Regions from separate parts of the Homo sapiens genome. Here region 1 is linked to region 2. Evidence: fine-mapped expression QTL. A gene starts in region 2. The other region holds a variant in brackets. All regions are shown on one strand. Distances are from middle to middle.

The links.
Region 1: its variant is fine-mapped to the expression of TC2N in whole blood (TOPMed, PIP above 0.99). The same link has a PIP of 0.9 or more in blood mononuclear cells.

Annotation. Positions count from the first base shown.
Region 1 is chr14:91,822,920-91,825,947 of GRCh38, reverse strand. All of the region lies in intron 1 of TC2N (tandem C2 domains, nuclear), which reads left to right. Among named protein-coding and RNA genes, the nearest start is that of TC2N, 43 kb to the left of the region's middle. The variant C/A (reference allele first, on the strand shown) is at 1,309.
Region 2 is chr14:91,866,098-91,868,597 of GRCh38, reverse strand. It overlaps TC2N (tandem C2 domains, nuclear), which reads left to right and starts at 1,062. Exons shown (of 12, transcript NM_001128596.3): 1 at 1,062-1,336. RefSeq lists an enhancer at 847-896.

The sequences.
Region 1 (3,028 bases), 43 kb after region 2:
AACATTTATTAAAATTGATGATATACTATGAATATCATTGATTGTATACAATTTCTCTGATCACAGTGGAATTCAGCTACAAATCAATATCAATAAGATAGCCAGGAAATCTAAATTAAAGAAAAACAAAAGAATAAGACAGATGGAGAACTGAAATAGGGCTTTGTTATTAATAAAGCTAATTTAGATATGGCATGTATCTGCAGGCAAGTAGGTTTTCTAATACAGACAAATCTTTCTCAAAGAAACTAGAGACAGCAAGAAGCATTCCTACCCTAACGTAGTTCAAAGGTGCAAAAGTAAAAAAGAGAATGGTGTGTTTCTAGCACATCAGGTAGTTATATTTTGAAGCTTGGTATTTGCAGAAGGAAGTAGTGGAAGATGAGCAAGAGAAGGGTCACATATTGTATTTAGCAGAATAAATTTTATCCTGAAAGTGATAGAGAGATATAGCATTACTTAAAGCAGACGAAGGACCTTAGCAGCACAGTGGGGGGATAAAAAGAATTTGAAAGGCAAACCTATTAGCTGGCTCTCTGTAATTTGGGGTATCATAACATCTGAATCAAAATAGTCAAATTGAGAATAGAAAGGAAGGTGTGAAAATTACAAGGATGGCCAGGCGCGGTGGCTCACACCTGTAATCCCAGCACTTTGGGAGGCCGACGCGGGTGGATCACGAGGTTAGGAGTTCAAGACCAACCTGGCCAAGATGGTGAAACCCCGTCTCTACTAAAAATACAAAAATTAGCCGGGCATGGTAGCGGGTGCCTGTAATCCCAGCTACTCAGGAGGCTGAGGCAGGGAATTGCTTGAATCCGGAGGCGGAGGTTGCAGTGAGCCAAGATCGCACCACTGCACTCCAGCCTGGATGACAGAGCGAGACTCCATCTCCAAAAAAAAAAAAAAAAAAAAAAAAAAGAAAAGAAAAAGAAAATTACAAGGATTAAGGGGCTCTACTCAACAGAATTCTAGCCCTTGCCTATTTCACAGTTCACCTGCTAACTACTCTTTCTGTTGCTTAGTACCTTGCAAAATAATGCAAAGTGGGTACAACTCAAGATTTTTGCAATTTCTGGAATGCTCCACCATCAAGAACTTTGCTAGCTGATCCTTTCTTGTGTTTATGTTCCAGCTGGATTGTTACCTCCTCAGAGAAGTCTTTTCTGATTATACAAAGTTAACATTCATTCCTTTTGAATCCTGGTTAATTTTCCTCATTGGATTGAATGTATCATGTGTTTGTTTATTTTTCTGTTTATCTCCCTCCTCTGTTGTAAGCGCTCCAAAAGCTTGTCTGTCTTGTTC[C/A]CTATTTTGTCTTCAGTGCCTAGCAAATTGCCTAGTACATAGTAGATGCTCAATAAATGCTTGTAAGTGAATGGATGAATTGGATGTGTGGATTTTGGGAGCAGAAGGACTCAAGAATGGCACTTGTATTTCTGGCTTAGTTAATTAGCTGGATAGTGGCACTGTAGTAGGAAATACCAGAGGAAAAGCAGGTTTGCAGGGGAAAGTCGTGATGATGTACTGTCCTTTATTTGTGAGAATACCATAGACAGGCTGTTCCTAGACTATGTCAGACCAGCAGAGGCAAATAAGCCCTTTGGGAATCTCAAAAGGAAGTGATATTAAAAGTATTTTAACAACTTGTCGTGCATGAGCACTGACTGTAATATTGGAGCAGAGTCATGGAGGCCCCTGCTTTTTCAGACATTTACCTCAGGGGTGCCTAGGGAGGAGTTAAAGTGACTAGGGTGTTTATAGCTTTTATCTATTGATATGGAAGTATTTAAGTCTTTTTACAATCTGTCCTCATACTAGAATGTTCTAGCTAAATGTCCCCATATCATTTCTGGCATTGGGTAAAGTGCCTAGCATGAATCAGATCTGTTGTAAGTGGGATCTGATGATAATAAATATAATAATGATGCCGCTGATGACAGCAAACATTTATTCTTAAAACAGCCCTACCACTAGTTTTATACTTTATGTGCATTACTTTGGTTGATCATCACAATAGCCCTAAGAAGTGTTTTGTTGTTGTTGTTGTTGTTGTTTTTTAATTGATGAAGAAGTTGAAGGTTAAAAAGGTTAAGTAACAGATTTAAGGTCATATAGCTAATAAGTGAAAGTTACAGGATTGGAACATAGGCAGTATACTTTTAACCATTTATATTTGTTTCTCCTTGTTGCTAAAAAAGCAAACATGTGGCTATGTAGATAGCCAGCACATAGTCTGTTAACCTGACTGGTCCTGCCCTTCTACCCATACCCTACCTAAAGCAATGTGGTGTATTAGAAAAAGTTGTGAAGCTTAGGGTTTGGTTCTAAACCTAACATTATCTAGTTGCTTGACTCATTATTTTCTTTGGGTAAAATTAGAAGGACTTTGATAAAATGATTTCTTTTTTCTTTTTTTTTTTTTTTGAGATGGAATTTTGCTCTTGTTGCCCAGTCTGGAGTGCAATGGCGTGATCTCGGCTCACTGCAACCTCCGCCTCCCGGGTTCAAGTGGTTCTCCTGCCTCAGCCTCCTGAGTAGCTGGGATTACAGGCATGTGCCACCATGCCCAACTAATTTTTTATTTTTAGTAGAGATGGGGTTTCTTCAGGTTGGTCAGGCTGGTCTCGAACTCCCGACCTTAGGTGATCCACCCGCCTTGGCCTCCCAAAGTGCTGGGACTACAGGCATGAGCCACCATGCCTGGCCCCTGATAAAATGATTTCTAAGCCTTCGGCTCTGCTAATGTTTTTGAGGCCTCTTTTTCTGTTAATGTTCTGTAATTCTACTTATGTATTATTTTTTCAGGTTTATTGAGGTCTAATTGATATGTAGTAAGTTACATATACTTGAAATCGATAATTTGATGTTTTCATGTTTTCATGTATGTATGTACCTATGAAACCATCACCACAGTCAAGATAATGAGTATAGGCTCGGCACGGTGGCTCATGCCTGTAATCCCAGCACTTTGGGAGGCTGAAGCAGGCGGATCACGAGGTCAGGAGATCGAGACCATCCTGGCTAA
Region 2 (2,500 bases):
AGTGCCTATCAGGAGTTGTGTCCTGGACCCCTAGTCTTAGTAGGCATTCCACAGATCCTTGTGATATGGACAGGAGACAGGGAAATACTGGGTAGAAGAGGGTGGTTCCCTGGCAAAGGCCCCACCCTCAAGCCTGGGTACCCATGGCCCTAAATGAGGACAGCCATTCCTGTTTTCATCCCTAAAAAGTTGCCTTTTGGCCTGCCATGTCCCCTATCCTGTACCCATATAAACCCTGAACCCCAGGCTCCAGGCTCCAGAAGCAGACGGGGAGACAAGAAGATGAGCAGACATGAATGGCAGAAAAGCACGGCAAAGAAGGAGAGAAGAGAAGGAACATTGGGAGGAATTCGACTGGAGACGATCTGAAAACTGGCCACTGGATGGCCAAACTCCAGGGGAAGATCATCTTCCCACTCCATCCCCTGTCCAGCTCCCCATCCATCCTACTTAGAGCCACCTCCACCACTCAATAAAACCCCTGCATTCATCCTGCAAATCCATGTGTGACCTGATCCCTCCGGGATGCTGGACAAGAGCTCGGGATACAGGAAACTGTCACACTGGCCCTCTGCCCTGGCAAAAAGGGAGAGGGTCCACTAAGCTGGTTAACGCTTAAGCTGTCCACGGATGGCAAGGCTGAAAGACTGCACTGTTTCAGTGCCTACTCGGGCTTTGGAAGTCACAGACACCGACCCCGGGATGCTGTCATGGGGCTGGGGCCCAAAAGTGCTCACCCTGGTTCCTGCACCTGCCTGTCTGCGTGCTCCCCTTCCCATAAGGGGTTTTAGCTTGGGGTGGCTGAAGAGAGAGCCACACCCCTGTTGCACATCCTGTGAGGGGGCCAGGGAATTCTCCTGTTCCACTTAGTAGTATCTTAGGCCTTCAGTGGAAGGAAACAGCATGTTCCACGCCCTGTAGCATCCAAGAAGCTGCAAGTCCTCCCTCCTCACCCCAAGAGCATTTCTCACACCCACACCACACACCTCACTTTGCTGTTGGCTGTGGTTATTTTTTTCTCTAACTAAGCACATCTAAACCATGCCTAGTTGTGGTTCTTCAGTCAGGGTCAAGTGGTGTTAGCAATCACATCAGCACCAAATGGCTCAGGATGCTCTGGTTTCAAAGCTTATAAAACAGAGGGTGATTCCCTTGGGACTCACTCAGCTCGGCTCCGAAAAGCAAAGGCCAGAAGGCAGCAGTGAGCCTGGGTCCCTGCTGTGTAGGGAGACTCAGGGGCTGGGAAGAAGGATGGAATCAGAAATGCTGAAGGTTTACGTGAGCTTTGCACCGAGCGCCTCCGAACCACTGCCTCTGGGCTCAACAGAACACAGGGGTAAGTCTCCATGAACTTCTCAAAAAGAAAACTGGGAAGCTTTCTGTCTTGATGATTTGAGGACCCACTGGTTTCAGAGGTGCCACATTTGGAACCAGATCCGAGTCTTTAAGGTTTGTGTTTTATTTGTTCATGTCAAAATGTGGCTTCCTGCTTCTAAGAAAAGAAACTCAGGCTCATAAAAGCAGCCTCCAAGGGCTTCTTGGACCTCAAATTGCGCTTTCAAAATGTGGTCTGATGGGTTCAGTGTAAATGCACCAGAGGCATGTGGGATCCATTTACCTTAAAATACACTTGGGCCTAAAAATTAAGAGAAAAACAGTCCAGGGCAAAGTGTATACTGCAAAGTCAAGCTCCAAACATTTGGGAAACAGTTCTAGAGGCTGCTGGAACCCCAAATGCTACTTGCTTTACCTACCCCTTGGGAATCATCAAATGTTATTTTTTGTACAAGACTGGGGATGAGCCTGCTCTCTGATCCCAGTGCTGTGCTCTGCTGTGCAGTTCTAATGGGGCAGGCTGTTTCCTGGACCCTGAGATCTCCAGGCTCCCTGTGCCTATTCCTTGTCAGCTTTGCCCCATCCAGGAGCTGGGCTGAGCTTGTCAAGTGACCTCTGCTTTGTACCACTCCATCAGGTCCTGAAGAATGAAGGGTACCAAGGTGGAAGGGGCGCAGGATTAAGAGTAGGGACGCCTGCAAAAGCTCTCGTGTTACCACCTCATCTTCCAACTTTCATGTGGGTGAAAACGTTCATCCTAAATAATTGCTTCTAATTCTGAAGTTTTGTGATTCCTTGAAATGTACTTTGGGGATGACAGCCAGCATTTCCATTTCACTGCAATTTCAGAGTTTTGCAGTGGTTTGCCAATCATAACACTTTCTAATTGGCACAAAATCCACCTACCTGTTGCCTCTCAGGCTTGGGTAACATACTTCAGACACTTTCTTAGGTAAGTCTTGGCCCTTGGGGTGTTATTTGCCCAGATGGTAAAAACATTTAAGTAGGTCTGATTATTTCATTTTCAGTGGTTTCAACGCATTTTTGTGGCCTGGGTGGTTACTGTAATGTGCCCAAGTTGTTCATTCTGAGCCAACGGGGTCACCCACAGAGAGAAGACTTGACAAAGGAACTCTCCTCTACTCCCCTCTTGCCAGATGAAATA